4 separate regions of the Homo sapiens genome follow, and all the other regions are linked to region 4. The links come from fine-mapping of genetic effects on gene expression. A gene starts in region 4. Each other region holds a variant in brackets. All regions are shown on one strand. Distances are between the middles of the regions.

Region 1 (7,788 bases), 780 kb after region 4:
CTATTTGAGAATGGTATGGTTATATACATAGAAACCCCTGAAGACTCAACCAAATACTGTTAGAGCTAATAAATACATTCAGTAAAGTTGCAGGATACAAAACCAATATATGCAAATCAGGGCATTTCTATACACAAACAGTTAACTATCTGACAAGGAAATCAAGAAAATAATCCCATTCACAATAGCAACAAAAAAAGAGAATACTTAAAAATAAATTTAACCAAAGAAATGAAACACTTGTACACTGAAAATTATAACAATGATGAAGGAAGTTAAAGAAGATACTGATAAGTGGAAAGATATCCATATTGACTGAAATAATTAATATTGCTAAAATGTCTAAACTACCCAAACTGATTTACAGATGCAAAGCAATCCCTATCAAAATCCCAATGATGTCCTTTACAGAAATAGAAAAATCTACCCTAAAATTCATATGCGGCCAGGTACAGTGTCTCTCACCTATAATTCCAGCATTTTGGGAGGCCAAGGTGGGTGGATCACTTGAGGTCAGGAGTTCAAGACCAGCCTGGCAAACATGGTAAAACCCCACCTCTACTAAAAAGACAAAAGTTAGCTGGGCATGGTGGCAGGTGCCCGTAATCGCAACTACTCGGGAGGCTGGGGCAGGAGAATCACTTGAACCTGGGAGGCAGAGGTTACTGTGAGCTGAGATTGCACCACTGCACTCCAGCCTGGGTGACAGAGCAAGACTCTGTCTCAAAAAAAAGAAAAAAAAATCATATGGAACTACAAAAGACCCAGACTAGCCAAAGCAATCTTGAGCAAAAAGAACAAAGCTGGAGGCATTACCGGCTCTGATTTCAAAATATATTACAAAGTTATACTAACCAAAATAACATGTACTATCATAAAAACAGACACATAGGACAACGGAAAAGAACAGAAAGCCCAGAAATAAGTCACACATGTGTGGTCAACAAGTCTTTAACAAAAGTGCCAAGAATACACAACGGGGAAAAGACAGTCTCTTCAATAAGTGGTGTTGAGAAAACTGGATACCCCCATGCAAGAAAACGAAACTGTATCTTTATTTTATACCATACACAAAGATCAACTCAAAGAGACTGAAACATAGCCCTGAAACTCTAAAACTCCCAGAAGAAAACATAGGTGAAAAGCTTCATGACATTGGTCTTGGCAATGATGGTTTGGATATGAAACCAAAAGCACAAAGGAACAAGTGAGACTACATCAAACTAAAAGTTTCTGCACAGCAAAAGAAACAATCAACAACAACAAAAAGCAACCTACAGAATGGGAGAAAATATTTGCAAGCCATACATCTGATAAGGGGTTAATATCCACAATATATGAGCAACTCATACAACTCAACAGAAAAAAACGAAACTTGATTAAAAAGCAGAGAGAGGAGTTGAGTAGACATTGTTCCCAAGAAGACATACAAATGACTAACGGGTATATGAAAAGATGTTCAACATCACTAACCATCAGGGAAGTGATAATCAAAACCACTATGAGATGTCACTTCACGCCTGTTAGGATGGCTATTATCAGAATGACAAGAGATAACAAATGTTGGTGAGGATGTGGAGCAAATAAAACCCTTGTCCACGATCGATGGGAATGTAAATTGGTACAGGCATCATGGAAAACAATAGGGAAGTTTCTCAAAAAAGGAAAAATAGAACCACCATGTGATCAGCAATCCCATTGTGAGGTCTATATCCAAAGAAAATGAAATCAGTATCTTAAAGATATATCTGTTCTTTGCAGCATTATTCACCAAGATACAGCCAAGATACAGAAATAACCTAAATGTCCATTGACAGATGAATGGATAAAATGTTGTATATACACATGCAATGAAATATTATTCAGCCTTTAAAAAGAAGGACATTCTGTTATTTGTGACAACATAAACCTGAAATCCAAAAATGTCAAATCATGGAAACAGAGAGTAGAATAGTGGTTACTGGAGGCTGAAGGGGAGGGATATGGGAAGATGTTGGTCAAAGGGTATGAGCGAGGTCTGTTATGTAAGGTAAATAAGGTCTGGACAACTACATACAGCAATGTGACTACAGTAACAGTATTGTAGACTTGAAATTTGCTGAGAAGGCAGCTCTTAAGTGTTCTCACCACATCAAAAAATGATAACGATGTGAGGTGATAAACGCATTAATTTGCTTGATTGTGGTGGACAGTTCACAATGTATACATATATTGAATCATTGAGTTGTACGCCTTAAATATATAAAATTTTTAATTGTCAACTATACCTCAGTGATGTTGGGGAAAAAGAGAATAGTGTGACATGCATTATATAATGCCCCCCAAATACGTCCACATCTGATTCCGAGACCTCTGAAGATCTTACGTTATTTGGCAAGGAGGAATTAGGTTGCAGGTGGGTTTAAGGTTGCTAATCAGCTGACTTTGAGATAGGAAGATAATCCTGGATTATCTGGGGGCCCAATGACATCACAAGGGTCCTCACAAGTGGAAGAAGGGGCAGGCAGGAGGGTCAGAGAAGACAAGGCAACAGACTCAGAGAGGCAGGCTGACATGATGGGAGAAGGATTCTGCAGGCCATTGCTGGCTTGGAGGATGGACGAAGGGGATTGCCAAAGATAAACAAAGCTGGACACTGATTAAAATGATCAGGACAGATTTAAATCAGTAAAAACAATTGCTGATTTAACAGGGAGAGGGGTCTGTGGTGAACTGCACTCAACTTTGTACAGAAGTGAACCAGCGTGTTGAAGGGAGAATGCGAGAGTGGGAGGGGAGAAGCTGGAAAAAGCCAAAAACCAGATTCTTCCCCAGAGCCCCTAGAAAGGAACATGGCCCTGCTGGCACTCGGAGTTTAGCTCAGCGAGACTCATTTGGACTTCTGACCTGTAGAATCCTAAGAGAAAAAACATATGTTGTTTTAAGACACGGCGTTCGTGACAATTTGTTGCAGTGACAATAGGAAACTAATACAAATAGCCAGAACTTAGATAAGCAGAGAATCCAGACCTCTGGTGTGAAGAGAGGACCATGGGGAGGAGATAAATCTCACTACAACAAAGTGTTTGATTTGGGAAGAAAGAATCGCTAACACACATGGAGCTCTCCTTGTTCCGGCGGGGTTTAAGCACTCAGGCATGCATTTTCAAGAATGCTCTGAGGTTGGTACTATTATTATCCCCATTTGCAGGGGAGCAGACTGAGGCACAGAGAGGTTAAATAAGTTGTCTAAAATCACAGTGGTGGTACGTGCTGAGGTAGTAAGAGACAATACAGAGGGTGTGACTGCAGTGCTAAGGCGGTGAACTCCTGAGAGCTGCTGCGGCCCCTTTCCCAGCCTCAAAATGGTATGAGAGGGGTGGTGGGCCCTGCTCCTCTCACCGGGCAATGGCTCACTCAGCCTGGTTGGCTGCCTCTCTAAGCCTGGGGTCTGTCTCTGTGAGGAGCAGAGGGCAGGCCTGGGGAGCACATCCCCCATGTCCTTGCCATGTTGATAGTAAACCAAAGTGAGTAACTGCCATTCTTCCCAAACCCTGAAC[C/A]TGGGCTGTCCTTCTGTCTGGCTGAGCTCATTACCAGCTGGGAGGTGAGGCCCTGGCTTTCAGACCCTGACCTTGACCACGACCTTTCACTGCCTCTCTGCAGCCAGGTGTGGGGAGTAGAGAAGGCCCCTGTGATGAAGAGCCTCCAGTGCCAGGACCAATATGGCAGATGTTAGGAACAGTGGACTGACCTGCTTTCCAATGCTTGCTGAAAAGTCACCTGGCAGCAAGAGGTAGGAAGAATCAGTGGAGGGGTTTACGTGAATATTCACAGCGACATTATTCATAATAGCCATAAGGCAGGAGAAACTCAAATGTCCCTCAATGGGTGAATGGGTCTAAAAGGTTTCTTTTTGAGGTGATATGAAAATTGACTGTGAAGATGGTTGCACATAACTGTAAATATAATAAAATCCATTGAATTATATACTTTAGTGGGGTGAATTGTATGGTATGTAAATTATATCTCAATGAAGCTGTCAAAAAGGTTAGTTGGGGAGAAGCTCCAAGCCAGCAGAGTGCTCTGTGCCACCCCAAGATGTGACATCTGGGGATGCAAAGACTGGAACTGTCAGCCAAGGCTAAGAGCCAGGCTGCAAGCTGGAACCAGGTTGTCCCAGAAACAGTGGACAGACACGCAGGGTGGGGTCCCTCAAAGAGCCTCAGAATCAAGCTGGGCACAGATTCAAACCTGGCAGGCCTCTCACCCTAGGTTTTCTCATTCAAAAAGTGAGAGGTCAGAGGTCAGCGTTCTTCGACCTCAGTACACCAAAGACCTTCAAGCTCTCAGGGACTCTGCTCTGGACCTCAGGATGAAGGGTGAGGGGTAGAAATAATAAGTGGGAGGTTAGGACAGGGGTGAGGAGAGAGGACTGAAGTCACACATGCTCATGCTGTGGGAAGAAATGGGAAGAGGCAGGTGTCCATTGGTTGGGGCCGCCAGACAAGCCTTACTCTGAGTCCTCCCACCGGTGGAAAGAGGCTCAAGACAGAAACTGGTGGTGTGGGAAGAGCATCTCAAGCTGGAAAGGAGCAGTTCCTTGCCACACCTGTAGATGCTTGACAGGTAGAAGGCTTCTGCCACTGTGAGGTCAGGAGGAAGGGGTGGGGGAGAATCAAAAGCAAGGGATGCATTTCATTCATTGCATTCCTGCACGCATGCAGTAAGAAAATATTTTTTAAGTTCAGGGCACCTTGAAGAGAGAGGTGAACAAAGAGAACAAAGTCCACATCCTCAAAGAGCTTTTGTTTTAGAGCTGTGCTGTCCGAGATGGCGGCCACTAGCACGTGTAGCTACCAAGCCCTTGAAATGTGGCCAGTCTGAATGAGAGGTAAACAAAGGGCAAAATACACATCAATTTCAAAATTTAGACCAAAAAATGTGAAGTATCTCATTAATGATTTTTCATATTGATTACATGTTGAAATAATAGTATTCGGGATATCATGGTGATATGGTTTGGCTCTCTGTCCCCACCTAAATCTCATCTAGAATTGTAATCCCCACATGTTGAGGGAGGGAACCGATGGAAGGTGATTGGATCATGGGGGCAGTTTCCCCCATGCTATTCTCGTGATAATGAGGGAGTTCTCATGAGATCTGATGGTTTAAAAGTGGCATTTTCCCCTGCACTCTATTGCCTGCCACCATGTAAGATGTGCCTTGCTTCCCCTTCACCTTCTGCCATGATTGTAAGTTTCCTGAGGCTTCCCCAGCCATGCAGAACTGTGAGTCAATTAAATCTTTTTTCTTTATAAGTTACCCAGTCCAGGTAGTAACTTTATAGCAGCGTGAAAATGGACCAATATACACGATTAAGTGAAATAAATTCTTAAAATTAATTTTACCTGTTTCTTTATGCCCTTTTAAATGTGGCTACCATAAAATGTAAAATTACAGATGTGGCTCAAATTATATTTCTATTGAATAGCATTGCTCTAGTAGGAGAAACAGACAATAAATAAGAAATAAACAGACATAACAATATCAGTAATGTTTGATAGAATGGTCTTTCTAGGGAGATGGTGTCCGTGGAGAGGCTTTGGAGGAGCAGCAGGCAGTGTGGCTGGGGATGGTGAGCATGGTAGGTGGCTGGAGGGGATGTAGGCAGAACTGATCTTTGAGCAGCCTTGAAGACTGTTGTGCCTACGAATTTACAGGCCTTGGCAATGGTGACTGACTGGACACAGGAAAAAAGTGAGAGGGCAGGGACAGAAGTCAACATGAGGTTCTGAGCCAGTGTGACTGGCGAGCTGCTGGTTTGCCTAGATCGGGATGGAGATAGGACCTGTGATGAATTCTGAACTCTTGTCTCATCCTGCTAAGTCTGAGTTGGCTCGAGGAAATTCAAATGGACATGTACAGTTTCCACTGGAGATAGTCCTGGAGCTTAGCAGCAAGGCTGGGGATGAAAACACACAGTTTAAAGTTATCTTAGAGGAGACCCTTGAGCCCACACACACGGATGTGTTACTGAGGGTAATGAGAGTGGGGAAGGAAATGACAGTTGGTCAGATGTAGCTCGAGTCCTGGCTCTGCCACTTCCCACCTTCCTGTACTTCCTCATCTGTGTGATGAATTTAAAATGGTCACGAACCATTTTGATGTTGTTTTTATTCCCTCATCTTGAATGTGGGCTGGCCCTGTGACTACCCCCAGCCACTGGAGCACAGAGGAAATGATGCTGCTCTGGTTCCAGGCTTAGACCTAAGAGGAGTGACAGCATCTGCCTCATTCTTCTGGAGCCCTGAGTTACTAAGTAAGAACTTCTACCCTAAGTCTGCCATGTTGTGAGGAAGCCCACAGGTGAAGAGGCTGGGCAGAGAAATACAGAAGGTTACTTAAATAGCCAAGACATTCCAGAGGAGGCTCCAGACACCATGGGAGAGACAGAAGTTATTCTTCCTCCATCCTGTCCACATTCCTAGCCCACAAAACGATGAGGTATAAGAATAATCAATTGTTGTCTTAAGGTACTAAGTTTTGTAGAAGTTTGTTATTCAGCAATAGATAAATGGAATAGTATGTAAAATGGGATAATAATTTATATCTTATTTGATTGCTAGAAGGAGGATGTAAAATGCCAAGTACAGTTTCTGGCACTGGATAGGTACTAAATCAATACTCTTTTTCTTTCTCTTTGAAAGGCTTATGCTATAAAGTCAAAATCTGTGAGGTTCAGCCTTGTGAAATGACATCAAATAAGCTGAAGTCCTATTTCATGTCTATTTTTTTAAACATATGGAAATGACAACTGACCATAGGCTATCTTCCCTATGCTAGATTGCCTATTCTCCCCTCAGTTACACTGGTCTCAAGGCATGTTCTCCTGGTCACTCTTTCCAGAATCTGATCTAATTGAAAATTCTCCGTTTGAGTGAGTTGCCCTAGAAGGGCCGCCTTAGGTGTGGTCAGTGCAGTGCTGGTCAGAAGTGTGTCTCCTCACTTTGTTGGGACACACCACCCCACTCACCATGCTGGCAGAACAGACCAATACTGTAGGCTTCTAGGATTCTGCTTCTATTATTCAGTGTGTTTACTATCACTTTCAGTTTCATGATATCACAGACTCGATCAATTATACTGTTACTCTTCTTATCCAAATCATTTATCAAAATGTCGGACAAGTCTGCAGTGAGGGTAGAGCCAATAGAGACCTCACTATCTGTTGACATTTGTTCATTAATAGGCCCTGTTGGGTATGTTTGTTCAACCAGTTATGTGTGAATCACCCAGCACTTCTGTCATCCAGCCCACATTTTTTCCCATCTGTTTATGGGAGTATTCAGTTTCACTCTTTAGCATATACGATCTGCTTTTGTTCCACTGCAATAGCTGGTGTTGTTTGCCTAACTGTGATAGGTGCCACTGCAGGCAGGAGCCACGTCCTGTTTTTCTTAGATGACCTCTATGTTGAACATGTAGGAAGTGCTCAGCGAGCTCTTGAATGAGCTCTTTCAACCATATCATTCCATCAGGATGCCTGCTTTCTTACATGTGTCTGTTCTGACCCTGCATCTTAGCATACATCTAAGGAAACTTACATCTAAAGAAGGAAATTCTACAATATGTGACAACACGAATGACTCTTGAGGACATAGCACATTTCTGTTTATAATTATCTTATACGTAGGATATGTGAAAAAATACTCAATTTGATTTAAATTCCTGTTTTAAGAGAATCAACTACATTTAACCTAGGATGAATCCTTAACAGTTGGATTATGGAAAATTATACAAATCAGGAAG
Region 2 (7,788 bases), 22 kb after region 4:
CCAGCTTCATCTTTGTGATCTCAGCAAATGTGTACATTCCAGAGATCCAGGAAAGATGGCTGCTTCATGGAGCTTCTGAATCACCCTGGGCTACTGACACACAGCCACTGGCACAGGTTCACAGAGCTAACATTTGATCACGTGGGTTCAGACCCTACTTATCAAGGGACTTCTCATCCACGACTGTGGGCAGGTCCTTGGGGACAGGGAAGCTTTCTCCTTCTGCTTTTTGATCCGTTATCTTTTCTTCAGCTTCTGCTGTTATTTATAGGTTCGCTTCAATATCTGAGATATTTTTTTTTTTTTTTTTTTTTTTGAGACAAGAGTCTCACTCTGTCACCCAGGCTGGAGTTCAGTGGCGTGATCCCGGCTCATTGCAACCTCTGCCTCTGGCTTCAAGCAATTCTCTGCCTCAGTCTCCTGAGTAGCTGGGATTACAGGCGCCCACTGCCACGCCTGGCTAATTTTTTTTGTATCTTTAGGAGAGATGGGGTTTCACCATGTTGGCCAGGCTGGTCTTGAACTCCTGACATCGTGGTCCATCCACCTCGGCTTCCCAAAGTGCTGGGATTACAGGTGTGAGCCACCACACCTGGAGGAGATATTCTTTAATCTAGAAAGCAAATACTAGTTTATATGAAGTACTTAGCAAAAAAAAAAAAAAAAGCTAATTTTCTACAAATGTATATTTTCTGTATACTTGTTGATATTTTACTGTGCTTTTATTTTCAGTCTTAGAAACAGGCAGCCAATATATAGAGCAACCTTCCTCAAACTTTTAATGTTAATCTCATGACCAAAGTAGAGAATCTCCCCCCACCAGCCCTCCTCTTCCAATCGAACTTACACACAAAGAGCTTTGCCTAAAGCAGGAAGTTATTTGCTCTACAGAGTTACGGGTAAAATCTTTATAAGGGTCTTTCGAGTTGTTTTATCCCAGTTATTTTTTTTTTTTTAGACAGGGTATCACTCTGTCATCCAGGCTGGAGTGCAGTGGTGCGATCATGGCTCACTGCAACCTCCGCCTTCCAGGCTCAAGTGATCCTCCCACCTCAGGCTCCAGAGTAGCTAGGACAACAGTTGCATGCCACCACACCCAGCTAATTTTTGTATTTTCTGTATAGACAGGGTTTCACTATGTTGCCCAGGCTGGTCTCGAACTCCTGAGCTCAAGTGATCTGCCCACTTCGGCCTCTCAAAGTGCTGAGATTACCAGGTATGAGCCACCACACCCAACTCCAGTGATTTTTAAAAATTATTAAATGGATAAACAATTTCCTGGGAAGAAAAGAGCTACCCTTTCTCTACTTTGAAGAAAAGATAAATTCATCGAGTCTGGGCTTTCTGTTTGAAGTTGAGGTTGTTCGAAGTCAGCAGTGGGGACAAAATTCCAGACAGTGGCTGCTCCTGTCTGGTCTCAGCCAGAGCCCCTTCTTAGTTCCTCAGGCCCTGCTCCTGAGACTCCTCCTAGACTCCCTGCAGCCCTCAGGCCTGGTCTCCTCATCCAATCAATCACCAAGTTCTGCTGACTCGACTTTTTCTTTTCTTTCTGGTTGGCCAGCCCTTCCATCTGTAGGACACGTGATGACTGTTTCGACTGTTTCTCCAGGACTTGTTCTCTAAAGGGAGTGACCAGTATTCTGAAGATATTTGTGGAAATGTCCCCATACAGGAGACCTGCAGTTTTGGCCGTTTGTCTGCCTACTCTTTGGTTTGCTATGTGGCCCTGAGAAAGTAATACATTAATACATTAATACAGAGATGCTCTCTGTATTAGTTTGCTGTTACTTCATAATAATCTACCTCCAAACTCAGTGACTAATGTAACAGTTAATTATTTAGCACATGTCTGAGGGGTGGCTGAATATGACTGACCTAAGCTAGACCAGGCTAGGGGACTCTGTGGACTTTCTCGCGCATCGGCAGGTGGGCTGGGGAGCTCGGGCTGTGCTCAGCTGGGGCAGCTCTGCTCCAGGTTTCCTGTCCTCCTTCAATGGCGGCCCACCCCAGCCAGTTCTCAGGGTGATGCTGACTCTGCTTCTGTTCAGCTGTTGCCTCTTGGTGAAGTCACCATCGCTTGCCTGGAATGCCACACCCAATCCCCCACTCCTCCGAAAAGCTGGTCTCCCTGCATCTCTCCCAGTGTATCCCCTCAAAAGCAGACAATGTGACCTTTTAAAAAATACAAACTTCGGTCGGGGGCGGTGGCTCACGCCTGTAATCCCAGCACTTTGGGAGGCCGAGGCAGGCGGATCATCTGGGGTCAGGAGTTCAAGAGCAGCCTGGCCAACATGGCGAAATCCTGTGTCTACTAAAAAATATAAAACTTAGCTGGGCATGGTGGCGTGCGCCTGTAGTCCCAGCTACTCAGGAGGCTGAGGCAGGAGAATTGCTTGAACCCGGGAGGCAGAGGTTGTAGTGAGCTGAGATTATGCCACTGCACTCCAGCCTGGGCAACAGAGCGAGACTCTGTCTCAAAAAAACAAAACAAAACAAAACAAAAACCTCATCTTGCCTAAAAACTCCCGAGTTGCTCACCATCCTTAGGCTGAGGCTCCAAGGCCGTCCACGATGTGGAAAGAGCCCTCTTCCTTGGCTGCCACCATCCCAGACTCCCTTTAGTTCTTTGCATGGAACTACCCTCTCCCCCAATTAAGGGCTTTGCATGTGCTGTTCCTCCTGCCTAGAGAGCTCCTCTCCCCACCTTCACACAGCCAATCCTCATCATTAATTTGCACGTGTAAATATCCCCTGGGGAGCCCTTCCCTGGCCCGTCCCATCGGCTCTGGCAGCACTCATATTTCCCTCTTTGTAACATTCATAAGACTTGTCATTTTCTTCTCAGATTTCCCTGCTAGACACAGGCTTTATGAAGGTACGTCTGTCTTGTTCACTGGTTGCTCCCTGGCACCTGGCACCTGGCACTAGGTGGCCTTAGTCAATACTGAGTGAATAAATGAATGAGTGAAAGGGGTTTAGGGGAAAGGCCCTGACTCTGTACGTGATCTGCAGATGTTCAGGCTCTTTGTTTTAACACCTGAAGATTTGAGGGTTGGACTAGGTGAGCTCTGATGTTTGTCATCTTTGTAGGCTTCACCCTCTGCCTGTCCCTTTTGCTCCTGGATGATGGTGGGTTGTATGGTGGGGCTTGAGATTAACGGGAGAGGCTGTGGATGAAGGGAGTTAAAGGTCACTGCTACTTAGTTAGCAGCAGGACGGAGTATACCTAAAGCAATCTAGCCAATTCTTTCAGTTCCAAAATCCAGATTCCAACAGCCATCAGAACAACACAGCCCTGTACTTGGCCGTGCAAGATCTCCCAGCTATTATGTCATGACAGCCAGCCCAGCCCAGAGCTGTCTCTGAAAGTCTAGGATATAGCCTTGCTCGGCCAATGAGTTCTGCCTGGGAAGTTAACTAATGATAGTAGTTCTCATTTGCTCAATATTAGTGCTGCAAAGTGATCTCCAGACCCCAGCCCGGATCCTATCTTCAAAGCAGGCACAAGTTCTAGAGAGTTCTGTGAGGCTGGCCATGATGGATGTTGGAGTTGCCCACATTCCCCTCAGTTGGTGCATAGTCAAGGAGGTGGAATACTTCCCTAGAGAAACACCAGGGGTCACCCCCATGGGAATGCCACTTTATTCGAAGCTCTAGCATCAATATTGGGTCATCTCAGTTGGGGAGTACCCAGTGCCAGGCTCTGCCTGCCAGATATACACCTGAAAGGTGGAGGACCAAGGCCTGTTTGTGGCGTTTCCTGCCACAGAATTCGGATTTGTATCTTTCTGCAGATTCCAAAGGCATAGTTAATTTTACAAAATTAAGTCTGCATTAGCAAGGCTTTGGGCATGTTCAAACCCATTCATGCAGTTTAATGAACACAAAAGCAACCTGCTGTTACAGCCTGCAGCCCACGTTAAGTTTGGGTGGACTGCCTCATTGCGTAAAACCTGGGGGAGTGGGAGAAGTCTCCTCTGGAGCTGTTATCTTGCCGGCAATTTGATGCCTTCAGCACGGAGGTTCAAATCTGGACTTCGGTTCCAAGTAGCAGTTGCTTAAATTAAGTATAAATCAGCAGTGCCGTGCGTTAGTAGCGTGGTTGGATGCATTCACTGCTGAGTGACCACGAACTCCACTGCACTGATGCAAGGTGGAAAACCTGAGCCAGAGCCACACACAGGGCTGGGCTGGGCGGCTCTGCCCCGTGACAGTCAGCTGAAGGGAGTGATTATACTTGCCACATCACCTCCGTTCACTGTCCACCGAACAGCTCTCCCCCAATTAGGGCTTTGCATATGCTCTAACACTGCAGCTCCCAGGCAGGAACTGGTTAGAGGGTAAGAGATCTGGGACTTGCTAAGAGCTTCATTATTTTCACAGATGCTCAGGACTTTATCCTGAAATTGGCAGGGGGTGGTGGTTCATGCCTGTAATACCAGCACTTTGGGGGGCCGAGGAGTTCAAGACCAGCCTGGCCAACATAGTGAAACCCCGTCTCTATTAAAAATACAAAAAATTAGCTGGGCGTGGTGGCAGGCCCCTGTAATCCCAGCTACTCGGGAGGCTGAGGCAGGAGAATGGCTTGAACCCAGGAGGTGGAGGTTGCAGTGAGCCAAGATCGCACCGCTGCACTCCAGCCTGGGTGACAGAGCGAGACTCCATCTCAAAAAAAAAGACTTTATCCTGAAATCAAAAGTTGTACTGCCAAATAGAATGGCTACACGTTACATCTATTTGAACGCATCATTGCAGCAAATCTATGCTCTCTAAAAGCGACTGGAAGACATGAGTTCTCATATGAGGGTGAGAAGAACACGGGCTCAGACAGTGCGTACTCACTCCCATGACCGTCGGAGTTAAAATGAGGGGGTGACAGTGCTGCAGCTATTCCAGGACCGGTGCTATTTATA[G/T]GAGCCTGTTCCAAACCTTAACCCACAGATACCAAATCCACTGAGCACTGTATGCAAAGGGAAACAAGAAACCGCTCTGCCAGGTCTGGTCCCTCGTAAACTCCCCAGATGACAAGCAAGTTATTTAATATGTTCTTTCTATGTTTGGAATGAATCTGTTTCCAAGAATAAAAGCATACAAACAATATCTTTATTACCTGTAATATACTTAAAGAGCAGGGGTCCCCAGTTGGTTAAACATTGAAAACAGTGGGAGAGCTTCAGAATAGAGAAAAATGACTGTGCCTCACCCCTCACTTACTGAGTCAGAATCTGCAGAGAGGGAAGTGCTGAGAGATGTCTTTTTAAAAAGCTCTCCAACTCTCCAGGTGCTTCTGTCCACCAGCCAGATTTGGGCACCGGTGCTGCCCAGCATGCCCCAGGCTTCAGGGTATGGGAGTCGCCCTGGGCTTGGGTCAGGCTGGGGCTCTCTCATTCACCAGGTGTGGGGAGGGGCTTGAGCCTGCATTTCCAGCAAATTCCCAGGTGGGGCTGAGGTTGCTGATCTGCAGTGCTCCATCTCTGGGTGTGTACCTACACACCCGTCACCTTTGTTGTACTGGGCTCAGGTATAAGTTGCAGGGTGCACCGTGTATCCCCGTAGCCCTGCCCTACTCCATGCTGCCCCCAGTCTCAAGTGGTGCTTGAACTTGCCTTCACCAAGGCAGTTCTCGTCTCAGAGTTGAACCCTCCCTGAGGGCCCCCAACAGCCCTCTCCAGGCCTTGTATCAGTAGGAAATGAAAATGCATTAATTGGGAGGGGTTTATCTGGGGTCAAAGGCTCAGGGAGATCATTCTTTTTATTGCCAAGGACCAAGAAACAAAGTGTAGAAATGCTATACACAATGGTCATGAGCTACAAGGTAGGAATGGGGTGCAGGGGAGACGTGGTAACACACAGCACTATTCTGAACGAACTCCAGCTCTCCATTCTAACACTTGAACCAAGGAAAGACAGCAGTCCTTTTTCACTAAGCCTGCAACAGAATGCAAATGTGACTTGGTTTATCAGCTCCCACAGGACAGGCAGCGCAAAAGGCTATTGTAAGCTGGTTTTGGGAGCCCCCATCTCAAACAGAGAGTGGATGCTGAAGGTGGTCCCTGGCCGCCACTGGTGGCTGGTCCCCGGCTTGCTAGGTCCTGGGCATGTCTCGATTCTCAATGATCAGCTTGTCAGTTGAATACAGTTGGCCAATGTGGACCTGAAGGCAAAGAAAGGACACAGGTCAGGAACCGTGGCCCTCTAGCCCCTGGGAAAGGCCAGAAGGAACATTTCCTAACATTTCTAATACAAACGTCGGCCATCCCAGGGCTGCTCCCTTCCGGCAACTGCACTGCGGGGCAAAGCCGGCCACTAGAGCACCATCCAACCCCCGTTTCCCTCACTGTGAGAAGTTACAGAGATCCACACACCCATTCCTCCCCTCTGAAACAGCACAGGAGGCTGCAGCCTGGGACTCGGGGCTGTGCTGAGCTGGGTGACGCCTGCCTGCTGGTGGCAGAGCTGTCAGATGTGTGCCCAGTACCTCCTCTCCTAAGAGGGCTTCCTTCCCTTAGAACTGATTCTCGCATAGGGAAGGGGTTTTAGAACAGTGCAGAAATGGGCGCCGTCTATGCTGGGGTAGGAAAAGCGCTGCATTCAGGGCAATGCAGACACCTGTCCGTGGCCCATCCCGGGTGGGGTCGAGGGCAGTTGTCTGAGTGCCTGCACCTCCTGCCTTCTATCTTTCCTGCCCCCTTCTTTTTAAAGTGTCCTTTTTATTAAGTGTCTTAATGCCCAATGTTTCCACTGTCCCAGGTGGATGCTGGAGCCATCCTCTGGGGCTAGAGCAGGTCTTTCCTCTGCAACAAAGGGTCTTGCCACAGTTTTTCTGTAAAGCATTTCCTGAGTGATACATTTTTAAGAACAAGTGGAATGGGTGAAGGAAGGGCTGATCATTAGCAACTCTATCTGGATTTCAGACCAGTTGGTCACTATCTATGGGTAATTCGGGGTGAGTAACTGCTGTTTAAGCAAACAGAGCAGCCAGGGGTCAACATCCTCATGGTTTTCCTCCCCGATCTTAGTGCTCTATTTCGAAGTGAAGGCCCCGGACAGAAGGCGATCATGTCATTACTACAGCATGTGTTAAAGAGCAGTGCTCTGTCACCAAGGACCGCCGCGCCGTCCATCTGAGGTGTCCTGTTTTCCATGCCATTTGCTCGGTCTTCAGTCTGCCCTTGCACAGAGGTATCTTGAAGGTCCGTGGCATGGATAATAACTAAGTGTTGCGGTGCAAGAGAAAGCGAAGGAAGAGGCGAGAGCAGCACGTCATCTAAGAAGAACGAGAAGTAGACAGTGGAGATATGGGGGATGGGGGGATCTTGCAGGTATTTTTAAATGCAAGTGAATGTCCTAATTAAAAACCAAAAGAGGTAGGTAGGAGTTATGGGAAGGGGGTGTAGAGAATGAGTGCTCCTAACAAGTCACAGTGATGAGCTTTGCTACTGTGTCTTCAGTCGTCCTTTCCTCTCATTAATATAGAGAAGACTTTGGACGCAAGTGGATGGGGAGGGTCTGGGGTGCTGCGTTTCTCGCAACCTGCAGGTAATGCTGATGCTGCTGGTCCACGGGCCACACTTTAGGTGGCAAGGTCGGAAATCATCTTGAGGGCTGTGAGGAGCCGCACTGGTTTTCTCAGGGGCTACGGTACAGTCACGATGAATGCAGCACAGGGACTTTCTGGCCTTCCCTTCTGGACAACCTGAAATAGCTGCTGGGTGAGCTGAAGCCATCTATACCCTACTACAGAGAAGGGGAGGATTGGCATTGTCCTCCACCCTGAATAGTACATGG
Region 3 (7,788 bases), 21 kb before region 4:
CGGCCCCATCAGACTTTGTCCCCAGGCCATTGTATGCTCTTCAAGTTCATTGAATCATCCTAAAAATCCTTTCCTACCACCTAACATCATCCACATTTCCTCATCTCCCTTTCCCTAAAAAGAAGGGTATTTAACCATCTGTACCCCATTGCATGGTGGGAGAATCACATGCTAATAAATTTATATGACTCTTCTCCTGTTAATCTGCCTTTTTTTTTTTTTTAAGAGACAGGGGTCTTGCTCTGTTGCCCAGGCTGGAGTAGAGTGGTGTAAGCATAGCTCATTGCAGCCTTGAACTCCTGGGCTCAAGTGATCCTCCCGCCTCAGTCTTTTGAGTAGCTGGGACTATAGGCATGAGACATGACACCTGGCTTTAATCTATCTTTTGTCAGTTGATTTTCAGCCAGCATTCAGAAGGCAAAGGGGAAGTTTTCCTTTGGCCCCTCCAACATGAAATCTGGATGTCCCATAATATATTGAACTTGTCCCCTCTTTAATGAGCATGTACATTGTTTCTGGTCTTTTCCTGTTACTAACAGTGCTTCAGTGAAATACATATGTACACACGAAAGTGTGGGATCAAGTTCTAGAAGCAGAGTTCTTAGGTCAAAACTATTTCTTTTAAAACATTGATAGATATTATTTTATTGCCCTCCAAAGAGTGAGCCTTTTTTTCAAAGATGGTGGGAATATTGATCTCTGTGTGTTGATTGTCTTTTGGATTTGTTTGTTATAATTTTTGCCATGAAAAAATGTTGGATTTTTAAGCAGGTACATTACTGTTTATGCTTTGCAGGTACATTCATGTAGGCCTTTTGGTTTTGTTTCTTGCTTAAGTCAGGTCTTGCCCAGTGAAGGTTTTTTTTAGTTGCCTACACTTTCTTATAGTCCCCTTGAGTTTCGATTTTTGTATTTTTTTTTTTTTGAGACAAAGTCTCACTGTGTCACCCAGGTTGGAATGCAGTGGTACCATCTCCATAGCACTCCCATAGAAAACTCACAAAAATCAGCTCACACGTCTGCCTCTCGGGTTCAAGTTATTCTTATGTCTCAGCCTCCTGAGTAGCTGGGATTACAGGCATGCGCCATCACACCTGGGTAATTTTTGTATTTTTAGTAGACACGGAGTTTCACTGTGTTGCCCAGGCTGGTCTCGAACTCCTGACCTCAGATGATCCACCTGCGTCAGCCTCCCAAAGTGCTAGGATTACAGGCGTGAGCCACCGTGCCCAGCTATATTTTTCAATTTATCTGGAATTTATTTTGAGAATTAGAATTCAGAGAGATTCTGCCCACCCCATAGCCAACTAGTTATACCAGTGGTATTTATTAAATAATTCATATTTTCTCGACCAATTTTGAATGCCACCTTTATCCTATACTGTTCTGTGTTCTTAAATTTAGGGGACAGCCAGTCAGGTGCAGCCTCAAGAGGGGACACAGGAGAGGCTCAGAAACAGTTTATAGTCCTCTCAGGTCCTTCACACAGGAGGCTGGCCATGCAGGTCACTTAATTAATTAAAAAGACAGTTAATTAATTGTATTTTTTGGTGAGGGATTATTTTACTTTTAACTTCTTAGTGTTTAATTTTTAATCCTTCATTTCTTCTATTTTTCTGATTTTAATTTATTTATCAGCTTTAGATTTTTGTCTCTTTTAACCCAAACCTGATTTACTAGAAGTTGTCTATTTTCATGCACAAACTGTCACACCACGTGCAGAGGCCTGCCTGTCAGTCAATAGTTCAGTTTTGGCTGAACTGCCACCTTTGTTTCACAATAGCAAAACGATGATTTCACAATTGTTTGAATATCTTATTGCATTTTGCCCTTATTTTATACAAGATAGTGAACAATTGTAAAATAAAAAAGGTTAATCCTATCTATGTCATAAATAATGAGAGAAATGCAGAAATATTAGTTGCCTCCCAAGCTTTTCACTTACCAGGCTTACGCAGATCAAATGTGTGTTCAATAGCAAACGCTGAAGGTGGCTAGGGGCTATGGGGTTGGGATCTGAATCTAACTACCTGCATGGTGCAAGAACTAAAACCTGAAAAACGAACACAAAACCGATCCATGACCATTGAAATCCCCAGAGACTCTGGCAACAGGAAGTCTTGTACTGTTCTATTCCGCAGCCACCCAGAGCTCACGGGAGTCCCATAGAAAACTCACAAAAATCAGTTCACACACAATGAATTACAAAGCACTGGAAGAAATGAACACCATGAATAAGACGCAAGACCCAGAGATGGAATATTTATGCCATAATTGAGAATGTTATCACCTTTGTAATTCTCTAGCAATGGAGGTCTTTTATATGTGTGCATTGCTCAACTTTTTTATAATTAACTCTGGTACTTTCGTACCACCTCCACAATAGCGGGGTGTTTAATACTGATACTTTGCCATTTTCTTCCTTCTATTCTCCTGGCTTAAAATACTATTATTTTCATTTCTTTATTTCTTCTTCCCCTTCCTTCTTCTTTTTTTTTTTTTTTTTTTTTGAGATAGGGTCTCGCTCTGTTGCCCAGGCTAGTGTGCAGTGGTGCGATAATAGCTCACTGCAGCCTCAAACTCCTAGGCTCAAGTGATCCTACCATTTCAGTCTCCCAAGTAGCTAGGACTACATGTGCACACCAACACCCCAGCTAATTAATATATATTAATTATATATTTATATGTTGATAATATTTATAATACATATTAATTAATATATTTATAACATATATTAACATATATATATATGTTTAGAGACAGGGTTCACTGTGTTGCCCAGGCTGGTCTCGAACTCCTGGCATCAAGTGATCCTCCCACCTCAGCCTCCCAAAGTGCTGAGAGCCACCATGTCTGGCCTTATTTTCATTTCTTAATAATATCATTTCCCCTGAATTTCATGACCTATCTGCATTTTTCTTCCACATCATTGTTTTATTTAATTCACCCTTCCCTTTTAATAAAGGCCTAAGACAAATGTGGCCAAAGGGATGGTATCACCGAGGCAGCATGGCAGGAAGGATTAGAAGCCTCCCTTGCTCAGAGCTGCAGGTGAGCTGCCAGCTGGCTCTTCTACTGAAAACACATAACACATCCTGTTTGAGGACAGTTTTCCACCTCCCCAGGATCCAGGCGACTCTCAGGACATAATTTACTTCTCTGTGCAAGTGGTCCATGCATTTCTGGCTCTGTCAGGTGACTTCTGGAATTAGAACCTCATGGGAGAGGCTGCACACTTTAGAATCTGTGATCTCTGATGAATGCAACCATTGGATTTGGAGCAAATCAAAGCCTGCCGCAAGCCAGGAGGGGAAGGGAAGGAGGAGGTCACACTGGCAAGGGCCCTTGGAAGGACTCATGTGCCGCTGACTATCCTGTGGTCAAGTGGACCGTGGTGGAGGGTGGTGTGGGCATCCATTATCGAACCACTGGGTCTGCTCGTTCACAAAGCAGCTTCCCATGAGTCATTTCCATCTCTGCACCTCCTTCTCAACAGGCACAAGAGGAGTCACCTGTGGACATTTTCCCTCAATACAAAGTCTTCCTGAATAGGATTTTTTTTGAATGGGGCAAACTGGGCAGCAAGCTTTGATTTTTCTTTTTTAGGAAGGCACTGAAACTGGCACAGACGGGACGGCCACTTCATCCACCGACTAAAGCCTTGGTCCTCATGAAGCATTCTGTGCACCGAGACCTGGCTGACCCTGGGCTTTTCGGATGCACTGTAGCCCTCAGGGAGGACCTGGTGCTCTTCTGGGGAGATTGGAGTCCCTGGAAGGCACGTTAGCCAACCGCCCATTTCCAGCCCCACAAGCCTTTCCCGACCCCCATCCTACCTGGCCCCTCCCCCAGGCCTATCCTCCTGGTCTCCTTCCCTTGCTTTGGTTTTTTCACATCAGTTGTCGCCATGGGACGCTACTTACACCCTTGTGTGGTTGTTTATTCTGACACAATCTGAACCCCACTGGAAGAAGCTCCCGATCCCTGGAACCCAGGCTTGTTCACCTATGTCTCCCCAGCACTGAGCTTGGCCTGGAGTGATGTTTGTTCAGTGAGTGAGAGGCAC[T/A]GCTCCTGGTGTGTGTGGCTTCCTCCCCCAACAGATCACATGTGGGTGCCACCGTGGACCACAGTTGGGGAGCCATCTCCCGGGAGCAGACTCAGCCTTCATCCCTGCCCAGCCTGGTCCCACCCAGCCCCTCTTCAGGCTGCCCCGGTTCCCCAGACCCTGGACAGTCCTGTTCATCTCTCTGCTCACCCCAGCATGTCGGGAACCTGCCCCAGAAAGTGGCATGCGCTGGTCCCAGGAACTGTCTGGGCACACTAGGCCTCTGGGCGAAGGGGTTGACTTGCCAGGCCAGGGGCAGTGGCTCCGGTGGGAGCTGCCTGTCTTGTGGCCTAAAGCCATGCAGTGAGGTTCACGGCTGAGTTCTTCCACATCTGTTGGGTCCCCAGAGCCTCTTAGCACTTCCTGGGAGCCCATTCTCAACTTGTGTTTGGCTTTTGGGAGCCTGTTTCTAACAATACACGCTTGAAAGGGACCCAGGTTTTAGAATGTTCTTTATTCCAAAGTCAAGGTTTTTGGAATTTTATCCCATCTGCTGGCTGAAAAAAAAAGGTGGGAGCAGAAATAAGGGTGACAAATGAATCAGCCTTCCCACCTAGCCCGGAAAAGTTCTATCCCAGCAAGCCCTGAACGGCAAACGAGACGTGATATCTATGTTTGTCTATTTGTCTTTAGTCATCTTTTAAATTTTATTTTATTTTAAAAATAATTAATATGTTTTATTTTTAGAGCAGTTTTAGGTTTACAGAGAAATTGAGTGGAAGGTACAGCTTTCCCATACACCCCTCAGCAACCCAAGCTCACTGTTTGCTCTGTTAACAATGAATATGAATGTAATGTATTTGTTACAGCTGATGAGACATTGATACATTCTTTTGTATCATATATTTTTTAAATTCAATTAACTTTTTGCTTAAAATTTTTTTTTATAGAGACGAGGGTCTCACTATATTGGTCAGATTGGTCTTGAACTCTTGGCCTCAAGGCAATCCTCTCGCCTCAGCCTCCCAAAGTGCTAGGACTACAAGGGCGAACCATTGTGGCTAGCCTTATTATTATTTTTAGTTGAAACACAATTGTACATATTTATGGGGTACAGTGTGGTATTTCAATTCATGTACACAAAGTGTAGTGATCAAATCAGGGGAATTAAGCATGTCCATCACCTAAAACATTCATCGTTTCTTTGTGTTGGGAACATTAAAATGTGCTCTTCTAGCTGGATACGTTATTTTAAACTAAAGTCCATAGTTTACATCAAGGCTTAGTCTCGGTGTTGCACATCCTACGGGTTTTAATAATGTTACGTATCCACCATTACAGTGTCATACAGAATAGTTTCACTGCCCTAAAACCTCTGTGCTCTGCCTACTCATCCCTCTCTACCCTAAACCATGGCAACCACTGCTCTTCCTAACTCCAAGTTTTGCCTTATCCAGAATGTCATAGTTAGAATCATACAGTATATAGCCTTTCCAGGCTTCTTTCACTTAAGTCATATGCACTTCAGTGTTCTCCATGTCTTTTTGTGGCTTGACAGTGTGTTTCTTTTTACTGCTGAATAATATTCCATTGTCTAGATATACTACAGTTTACTTATGCATTCATTACTGAAGGACATCTTCGTTGCTTCCAAGCTTTGGCTTTACATTTATATATTTATTTTTATTTAAAATATTTTAATTTCTAAAAAAGTTTAAATCATATTAAAATTTAAACAATTTCATTCTGTAGTACTTGACAATACATTTCAACAAACTGAAATGCAAAACAAATCAGTAAATCAGTTTTGTTTACTTTCTAAGCTTAATAATGTACAGACTCTTGCTCCTCAAGAAGATGCAAAAATCAGCAACAGTGAAAGTGAAATATTTAAATAGGAATCTGAAACAAAAGGAATTCAATCTGATCAAATCCACAATTAATTGAAGTTTTCACTTTATTCAATTGTGAATAAAATAGCAGCCACTGTTTCATCCAATATGCCAATGATATCAACTTCAGGAGAAATGATCTACGTGTCATGTGCAAAACAAGAACAGTTATCTTCTGCTGAAAGGATGTGAGCTTTCAAATTTGGTTTTCATGTCATGGTTTCCAAATAAATAAACTGCTCCACCAAAAACGACAGTCTAGTTGCTACATATTTACCAGGGTTTCATCATATAGCCATTTATAAGCACAATCTTTGGAACACTATAGTTTCAAAAAGTTTTTTGAAGTCTTGAGGGTACATGTTAGTTATTTTCTCTTCTTCCTTTTTTCCTATTTGCATCAATATATCCATTGCACCAAGTGGAGTCAGTGAACTTAAGTGGTCTATTAGATTGGCACTGCACCTCCCAAAACAGTGCTTTCACATGTGAAAAAATATATTACAGTTAATAGGTGTTAAGTTCTCGGTAAATAAATTTCCATGAGGAGTCATTCGAGTAAGATACAGATTTTGTTGTAATAGCTCCAATAATTCCCTACACTTTGGGTTTTCCAGCCGCCCATTTTGGGTGTATACATCAAATGACGACCAAGCCTCCATGTGCAGAACCTTAATCTCACAAGCTACTTGCCAGATAACACTTCATACATGATACAAGTCTGGATTTCGGGGATCTGCCGTTAGTTTCTGGAATTCTTTTTTACCAATAAACATATTTAGTTCTATTCGTCCAAATTTATATCTAGAAGTACAGGAATACGTCATATGCAGGTTTCCAAAGTGGCCCTTTTTTCACCTCTACTTGAGAACATTCTAGTTACTTTTAAAGGGCTGCCTGCTGTCCAAGGAACTGCTTCTATTCCCAAATTCTGAAAGAGCCCTTGAGAAGCCATAGCGGGTGGTTTTATTACTCCACCACTTCTAGGATCTATTTTAAAGAAGTCACAGTGAATCACTTGTAGTTTTCCATCCAGATTTTTTCCTAAGGACTCCAAATGTGGAATAAAAGTTTTGTCACTTTCAAGGGCAACCACTTTGGCACCAATTTCAAGTAATGCCTGAGTCAGGATTCCAGGACCTGGACTGCACTGCAGCAATAGGTGTGGAGGTCTATTTTGTTTTCTCCATACGATTTGCGCCAGGGTCTCAGCCAATCTCCGATTGGTTACGTAACGCTTAAAGTCTAAGATGGAGTTTAACACCCTCCTTGGTGAGTTCCTGAAATCCGGATCCGGCCACAGCTGCGGAGAGGAGTCAGACAGGCCACGGCGGTTCCTCGCCGGCAAGTGCTTTCGCATCGCCGCTCCAGACCCTAAAATGCAAAAGCGACCAGCGCCCCCCAAGGCGGAGAGCCTCAGCCGAGGAGGAAATCCGGCCACTGGGATCCACATGTCTTTGTCTCTCAGGCCCGCTCCAAGGATTACCGGGGGTTGCTACTGCAGTGAACCCCTAAATTTATTTTTAATTATATCATTGAAACATACATATATGCACTTGGCGGAAAAATTAAAGTGATACAGACAAAAGTATTAATTTCTTTGCTACTACTCCACCTCTTCCAAGTTCACCACATTCCCCATGTGCATCTTTCTAGATCCTTCCTAAGCATTTATAGATATTTATGTACACAGAAAACATTAGTTATCTATTGCTGTGTAACAGATGACCTCAAACTTAGTATGTCGTTAGCAACAGTTAACATTTACAATTGTGCAGCTTTTGAGGGTTAGGGAATTGGGGAATGTTTTATTTGGGTGGTTCTGGCTCAGTTTCTCATGAGGTTGCAGTG
Region 4 (7,788 bases):
AATAAAGAAAATAAATACTGTTATTATTTTTAAAAACAGCCCTGTTTGGGGTGGCTTGTTATGCAGCAATAGGTAACACGAACAAACGGTAAAGCTTGGAGCCTCTGAATGCCCGGAGTAAATATTTTAGCAGTGGAGGCACATGATGTTTGAAGTAGGACTGAACACACTTGGGCGGGGGGGGGGGGGGGGTAGACTGCACAGTCTAAATTTCAAGAAGTTAGTTTACATGTTAACATCATTTAACTATTAACTTCAGGGCTTTGCATCTCAGAGTAGAGAAGACCTGGGCCCTGTCTCCGGGAGAAAGCTTAGGGGACAGTGAGCTTGGAAAAGCAGTCCATCCCCACCATCCATTGTGCCAGAGTGGAGGAGTGGTGTGGGAGCCAGAGATCACCCATTGTTTCTGCACCTTTCAGGAGGCAAGGGGGAGGACCCGAAGTCCCCATGGGCTGCAAGGTGGGTGCACACCGTTTCTGCTTCTGAAGTCCTTCCTTGGCTTCTGAGAACAACCCTCTTCCATTCCCTCCAACCCTTCTGGCTGTTCATTCTCTATCCCTGTTGCAGGCTCATCCTCCTCCTCCTGACCTGGGAACATCAGGGCTGCTCAAAGCTCAGTCCTGGGCCCTCTTCCCTTCTCAGCTTTAGACCTCCTGTAGTATAATAAAAATAGACATTTGGTCTTTGTCCTTGGTTCCTGAAATAGAAAGGCTAAAACTCTTGGAATTTTCTGATAGAACATTTGTTATTACTTACATTGTTAGTGTTATTTTGTTGTAACATAATTGTTTTTTATAAAGAGTCCCTTTTGATCACACCTGAATTTATGCTAATGAGATGACTGAGAGTGGGCTCTCTAGACAGCCTCAAGATGGGCTGGGTACCAGAAACACCAAGTGATTAGAGGACTGGAACTTTTAACTCCACCCACTGACCTCCAGAAAGGGGCAGGGGCTGCAGACTGAGCAAGGCTGGTGGGGCTTCTGGGTGGGGAGCATGTGGAGACCCTGGAGGCTGGTGCACCCAGAGGGGCCCTGGAAGTCCCATGCCCATCGCACACTCTGTCTTCTATCTCTTCCCTTTGCCAGTTCCTGAGTTTTCTTCTTTATAATAAACTGGTGAACTCAAGCAAAGTGTTTTCCTGAGTTCCGTGAGTCATATGGAAGCTGGGGATGGGTTGTGGGAACACTAATTTGTAGCTGGAGGGGCAGAAATGCAGGCAGCCTGGGCACCCCGTTTGCAAGTGGCTTCTGAAGTGGGGGCCGTCTTGTGGGACTGAGCCTCTAAGCTGTGGAGACAGACACTAGCTCCAGGTAGATAATGTCAGAATTGAATTATTGGACACCCTGTTGGAGAACTGGTGTTAGACACCACTTGGTGTTGGTAAGAACCAGAGAAGCTCAACCTGGTCAAAACAGAATTCATGATCTTGCCCTCCCTCTATTCCTCTTCTGGGGGTCCCTGCCCCAGTGACTGCTACTGTCTACCCAACAGCTCAAGTCCAAATCCTAAGGCACCTCCCTCCCCCTGCCTCCCTGCACCTACCCCCACTTGGGGCCATAAGTGTGCTACATTGATTTTCACTCCTAAATAGCGCTCAGATTTGTCCACCCCACAACCATCATCTCTTAAGTATGATCACCCTTCACCACAACAATGGCAACAGCCTCCTATGGGGCTCACTCACATTGTTTCTGTCCCCAGTAATTTGCTCTTTGTCCTGTATCCAGAATGATCTTTTCAAAATTTAAATCTGGTTAGTCACATTCATGACTCAAAACCTTTTGACGGCCTCTCATTGCTCAAGGTTGAGTGGCTGTCCCCTCCCATCCTCAGCTCCGCCAGTTCCTCTGTGCTCTCTGCCCTCAGGCCACCCTGGCCTTCTTCCAGTCCAGCCCCCTGACACTCCCTCCAACAGAGCCTCTGCGTGGCCCAGCACGTTCTTCCTTGCAGTCCGAGCTGTTCCTTCCACCTCACCTTCCTCACAGGCCTCCTGACCAGGTCAGATACCACCTTCTCAGCATTGGCCACAGGGGCTGAGTTTGTATAGTGTTGGCCCCTCCCACGCACTGAGAGCTCCCCGGGGGTGGGACCTCTAGCATTTCCACCGCACAGAGGAGGGTGGGCCGGGGCTGGGACCAGTGCACCTGCATGACCCTGAGAGTGATGCCTCCTTAAATTCTATGCCCCAGCACCTCCCTCACCTCCTTCTCTGTCCTGGAGTGAGCATGTGCCCCCGTGAGGGTTGTAGCCCAAAGGGTCGCCACCACCTCAAAATCTCTTTGAAGTCTTATTTTATCTTTAAAATAGCTTGTGAATTTTGTATTTAACTCCATAATGTAGCAATGTGTATTTAAATGTAAAAGCAATGTCCTTCCCGAAATCAGAGTTGCTGCAGGAAGACAGGCCGTGTGCGCCTGGGGCCTCTTGGAGATGCCATGCCCAAGTCAAGACACAGTCATGGAATTCCACACTGGGCATAAAATGACCAGCAAGAGTCCAGCAAGGGGACCGGCAGGGCCCCCTTTACAGGACATCACTCCCAGCCCAGGCTTAGTAGTGATGGGGGAAATGTTTCCTCTAAGCTGCCTGGCTTCAAATCCCATGAAAGCCACCCTGTGGGGCCTTGGCGATGAGAAATCTTTCTGCAGTGTTGTGTCCTATATGTAGGCAGGAATGATGTGATTCCTATTTCATGGACAGGACATCCTGTAGGTGCTCAGTCAATCAATGTAAGCTCTTAACACGCTCCTCACCCACCATCTCTTTTGCCTGCCCTCTGCCAACATGGCTAAAACCCTGGCCCCTTTCAGTTCTGCCAAACCATGACATGTTTTAGTTATGAAGCCCCAATTAATTACGTTTCTTAATTAGTGGTTCTGTTTCTAGAATCCCCAACTTTCTATATAAGTAACTGAATACACATCCACATAGGTTTAAATACGGTCCCCAGAGCCCAGCATCAGCATCCCCTTGTTAGAAATACTTCCAGGCCCCAGCCCAAGCCCACTGAGTCACAAACGCTAGGGAGCTGGGAGCAGTGGGGGGCGCCTGTAATCCCAGCTACCTTAGAGGCTGAGGCGGGAGGACTGCTTGAGGCCGGGAATTTGAGACCAACCTGGGCAGCATAGCAAGACCCCTATCTCGAAAAAGTTAGAAAGAAGGAAACTCTGGGAGTGGGGCCCTGTGATGTGACAACGGGCCCCCGAGTGATGTCCGTGCATGCTGAAGTAGAATCACTGACTTAGATGGCCCTCAGGGTGGCCTTAAAACCAAAACAAGAAAAACACCACTTTTAGACGTTCCCCCAATCCCTAGGTACCACGACGCGCTTCCCCACCCCTCCCCGGCCTCAGGTTCGGGCCTTGGCCCCTGGCAAGGCCGGAGCAGCAGGGCGGTGACAGCGCAGTCCGGCGCGGGCCACGCCCCCACTCCCGGTGGGCGGGGAGGGTGCTTGGGGCGCTGGCGTCCGGTTGCGGTGGGAGGTGGTGCGTGCCGCGTGGGCGCCGGCCCCACGGGGCCCCCTCTCCGCCCTCCCTGCGGGATCCCGGGGCGCGGACTCGCGGGCGCGTCGGGCGGGACAGGGGGAGGGGCGGGACGTGCTCCCGGGCCTGGCGCGAATGGCCTCCGGCCGCTCTCGGCTGCGGGCCATGGCCGCTCCCCGGCGCGTCCCCACACGGTCCCCGCCCCAGTCTGGCCGCAGCCCACCCCGCGCCGCCACTGGGCAGATGGGGGCGGCGGCTCCTGCCTCCCGGCTTTCGGAAGAGCAGAGCGGAGCGCGCCTGACCGAGTCAGGCTTCCGAGTGGGATTGGAACCCGGGGCGCCCTGAAGTTTGGGGAAAGCAGGAGCAGAAGGGAAGGGATGCGCTCCCCGCTCTCCGGCGGCGCGGAATGGGCCTCCTTCCAGCCTCTGCGTAGGCAAGATTTCCCCAGTTGCGCGCTGCACCGGGGACTCCCCAGCCCGTGAGGCAGCCAAGAGGAGAGCGCTCAGTGACCCTCTGGGGGCAGAGCCGTCAGGCCAAGTTCATGGGCAGGAAGACTTTGTGCACGTGGGGGTCTCTGAAGGTTGAGCGCGAGCTCTGCACCCCCACTTCGAGGCACTCAAGAAGCGGAACAGACGCGAGCCCCGCCGGGGGTGCGGGTGAGGGCTGCAGGGAGCCCGCGAACGACAGAAAGTCGCCCCCCGCATTCCACCGGAGCACTCGGGAACACGGCTTCCAGGTGTCCCAGCGGCCGCGCCTCCCCGCCCCCGGCCCTCCCCCGTCGCGGGCAGGTTCAACCGGGAGGCGGCGTGGCCCCGGAGCCGGCCCCAGGCCCGCATCCTCCTCCCACTTCGCCCTGGGCAGCCGCAGCTAAAAGCCGGAGGCTCCAAAGTGGAACTACGTTGTCTTGTCGAGCCTGGGGCGACTCGCCTCGGGGAGGGCGAGCCTGAACTGCAGCCCTGCGCTCCTTCCACGGCCCGAGGAGTTAGTTAAGTCTCCAGAGGGGCCCGGTTCGGCCCGAGCAAGTCCAGGGGCGAACGGCGTCATGGAGCCCATAGGGGCGCGGCTAAGTTTGGAGGCGCCGGGACCAGCGCCCTTCCGAGAGGCCCCGCCGGCCGAGGAGCTGCCCGCCCCGGTGGTCCCCTGTGTGCAGGGTGGCGGCGACGGCGGTGGCGCTTCGGAGACCCCGAGTCCTGACGCTCAGCTAGGGGATAGGCCCCTGTCCCCGAAGGAAGAGGCCGCCCCCCAGGAGCAGGAGGAGCTGCTGGAATGCCGCCGCCGCTGCCGCGCGCGCTCCTTTTCCTTGCCCGCCGACCCCATCTTGCAGGCGGCCAAGTTCCTGCAGCAGCAGCAGCAACAGGCGGTGGCACTGGGCGGCGAGGGGGCGGAGGACGCACAGCTCGGCCCGGGCGGCTGCTGCGCCAAGTGCAAGAAGCGGGTGCAGTTCGCGGACACGCTGGGGCTAAGCCTGGCCAGCGTGAAGCACTTCAGCGAGGCGGAGGAGCCGCAGGTGCCGCCCGCCGTGCTCTCGCGCCTCCGAAGCTTCCCTATGCGTGCCGAGGACCTGGAGCAGCTCGGGGGGCTGCTGGCCGCGGCGGCAGTGGCCGCGCCCCTTTCAGCGCCGCCTTCCCGGCTCCGGCCGCTCTTCCAGCTCCCGGGGCCGAGCGCCGCGGCCGAGCGTCTGCAGCGGCAGCGCGTGTGCCTGGAGCGCGTGCAGTGCTCGACGGCCTCGGGCGCTGAGGTGAAGGGCTCCGGCCGGGTGCTCAGCTGCCCTGGGCCCAGGGCCGTGACCGTGCGCTACACCTTTACCGAGTGGCGCTCCTTCCTGGACGTGCCGGCTGAGCTGCAGCCCGAGCCGCTGGAGCCACAGCAGCCAGAGGCACCGTCTGGGGCCTCCGAGCCAGGGTCCGGGGATGCCAAGAAAGAGCCAGGCGCCGAGTGCTTCCACTTCTCGCTGTGCCTGCCCCCGGGCCTGCAGCCTGAGGACGAAGAGGACGCCGACGAGCGCGGCGTCGCGGTCCACTTCGCTGTCTGCTACCGCTGCGCGCAGGGCGAGTACTGGGACAACAACGCGGGCGCCAACTACACGCTGCGCTACGCGCGCCCTGCGGACGCGCTCTGAGCCTGGAGAGTTTCGAAGAGCCGTGGGGCGGGGTTGATTAGCACGTGGAGCTCGGGCTGCCGCCTCAAGGAACTTGCTGGGACGCTTTGCTGAGCGTGGCGAGTCTGGCGTGAGGGGCGCGTGGAGGGAAAGGAGGGAGACTTTGAACCGTCGACTCGCACCCCCGCAGACAAGTGAGCGAGCTTAGAGAGCCCGGGCAATGCTCCGAAAGCCTCTGACCTCAGTCTTCTCGTCCGTTTGACCTTCCTACAAGGCCTCTAGAATTCCCAGCCTGCGTCAGAATAGGAAGAAACTTCCAAGGCCCGGAGCAGCTGCCTCCAAGAAAAAGGCTCCCAACTCCCGGGCATGGTTCTAAGGCCTTGGGATTGGTTTTTAACTCTAAATATCATATTGTAGCCCTTGCAGTTTGCTGGAGACCCCTAGGGAAAGAACAAAGCGTCCTGCCACGGTGCACCAGAGGAAGGTGCCACGGACTGTGGGTGCACGCGTGGGACCTTTACACCCCAACCTATTTCTCAGAGAAAACCCTTCGGGGCTGGGCCAGGCCACCCTTTTCTTTTGACTGAGATGTGGGTAATGTGTGCCCAGACTTGACGTTGTTTATTGTGCGACATTGTGTACAAATGTCCTTTATAAAAGTAAAGGCCACTCGCACCCCCTTTTACGCTGTACTCTGAATTTTGGCTTTCGTGAGTTTGGGGAGGCATTGGCAGTCGGCCGATCTTTGTCAGCTGATGATGTGCGCACTTTAACAATCCTTAAACAACAGCCTACAAATTCCTCCCCTTCGTTCCTTCCTCTCTACTGCGAAAGGGCCCAAACTTCCCATGTGCTTTAAAATGTTCTGTAGAAAGTGTTCCGTCCCCCTCCGAATTAAGACGTTTGGTGAATTGAAATGCCAGTCCTCGGGCAGGCCCTGGCTGTGATCTGCGAGAGCCGGGCACGCACGCCCCGGCGCCCTTTGTGTAGGCAGAGCACACTGTTAGGAGACTTGCCGGGCCATTAGCAGTCAGAGAAGCTGGGCCCTTTTAGTCGCTGGACTGCCAGCGCAGGGGATGGGGGATGGGAAAGTGGCTTTCTGTTCCTCTCAGAGCCACAGTGGGGAGTGGTGACTTGATGGAAGAGGAGGCATGCCCAGCGAGTCAGTGCTGCGCAGACGCAGATGGCCACCTCTGCAGGCCCGTTGGGTGGGGTATGGACGGCCTTGGTCGCTGTGCTGGCTGTGGATGCCAGGATGATGTGGCCCTCTGTGCATGGGTGGGCAGGAGGGCATCCCGAGTAAGGTCTGTCGCCCCTTGACTCTGCCTCAGTGATTTCCCTTTTTTTAAGTCTTCCCATTTTCCAGCACATGGCGAGTACAGTCAGTCGTTTTAGGGATGGTAGTCTCTAAGGAGGGACAGTTTCACTGTTGCTTGATAGAACAGGGCTGGGCATACGTACATTTGGCCCATGGGCCAAATTTGGCACACAGCTTATTCTTGTAGGGCCTGTGACCTAAGAATAGTTTTTACATTTTTATTTTTAATTTAATTTTCTTATTATTATTTTTCGAGACGGAGTTTCACTCTTGTCGCCCAGGCTGGAGTGCAATGTGCGATCTTGGCTCATTGCAACCTCCGCCTCCCAGGTTCAAGCGATTCTCCTGCCTCAGCCTCCAGAGTAGTTGGGAGTACAGGCATCTGCCACCACACCTGGCTAATTTTTGTATTTTTGGTAGAGACAGGGTTTCACCATGTTGGCCAGGCTAGTCTTGAACTCCTGACCTCAGGTGATCCACCCGCCTTGGCCTCCCAAAGTGCTAGGATTATAGGCGTGAGCCACCTCACCTGGCCTTACATTTTTAAATTGTTGAAAAAAATTCAAAAGAAAGTACTATTTGGTGGCACGTGAGAATTATATAAAATATATATTTCAGTGTTCACAAATCAGGTTTTACTGGAACACAGCCGTGCACACTCATTTCTGTCTTCTCTGTGCTGCTTCCATGCTACCGCAGCAGAGTGGAGTAGACACAGCAGAGACCAGATGGCAAAGTGTAAAATATTTACTATCTGGCCCTTTTACAAAAGGCTGGCCAACCCCTGCTCTAGGGAAGTAGTGTTTTTTAAACACAATATGCTGACAATTATAGTTAATAAAGCATTTAGACTTTAGTGAGCTTTTGCCACTTGAAATAAACCCCCT

Alleles and levels. Alleles are on the strand shown, and positions count from the first base shown. SD is a standard deviation of normalised expression in the study named. Not every link is listed here.
For the expression in whole blood of the gene that starts at base 4,383 in region 4, T is the low allele of the variant in region 3 and A is the other (moderate effect, 0.69 SD a copy in TwinsUK).

The links. PIP is the estimated chance that this variant, and not a neighbour inherited with it, causes the effect.
Region 1: its variant is the best candidate, but not a certain one, in a credible set for the expression of PPP1R3G in atrial appendage (GTEx, PIP 0.79).
Region 2: its variant is the best candidate, but not a certain one, in a credible set for the expression of PPP1R3G in left ventricle (GTEx, PIP 0.50).
Region 3: its variant is the best candidate, but not a certain one, in a credible set for the expression of PPP1R3G in whole blood (TwinsUK, PIP 0.60).

Annotation. Positions count from the first base shown.
Region 1 is chr6:5,859,600-5,867,387 of GRCh38, forward strand. It overlaps LOC124901251 (a long non-coding RNA gene), which reads left to right and starts at 3,368. Exons shown (of 2, transcript XR_007059425.1): 1 at 3,368-3,772. The variant C/A (reference allele first, on the strand shown) is at 3,540.
Region 2 is chr6:5,103,338-5,111,125 of GRCh38, forward strand. LYRM4 (LYR motif containing 4) reads right to left here. Exons shown (of 3, transcript NM_020408.6): 3 at 5,082-6,154. The coding sequence ends at 6,086. All of the region lies in intron 3 of LYRM4-AS1 (LYRM4 antisense RNA 1), which reads left to right. Among named protein-coding and RNA genes, the nearest start is that of PPP1R3G, 22 kb to the left of the region's middle. The variant G/T (reference allele first, on the strand shown) is at 4,914.
Region 3 is chr6:5,059,593-5,067,380 of GRCh38, forward strand. The region is part of intron 2 of LYRM4-AS1 (LYRM4 antisense RNA 1); the gene reads left to right. It also overlaps a transcript of LYRM4 not described here and the pseudogene TFB2MP1. Among named protein-coding and RNA genes, the nearest start is that of PPP1R3G, 22 kb to the right of the region's middle. RefSeq lists an enhancer at 3,749-4,250. The variant T/A (reference allele first, on the strand shown) is at 4,067.
Region 4 is chr6:5,080,959-5,088,746 of GRCh38, forward strand. It overlaps PPP1R3G (protein phosphatase 1 regulatory subunit 3G), which reads left to right and starts at 4,383. Exons shown (of 1, transcript NM_001145115.3): 1 at 4,383-7,788. The coding sequence starts at 4,528. The coding sequence ends at 5,604. The region is part of intron 3 of LYRM4-AS1 (LYRM4 antisense RNA 1); the gene reads left to right. It also overlaps a transcript of LYRM4 not described here. RefSeq lists silencers at 3,365-3,434, 3,465-3,744, 4,155-4,334, 4,585-4,684, 4,825-4,874 and 1 more and an enhancer at 4,665-5,354.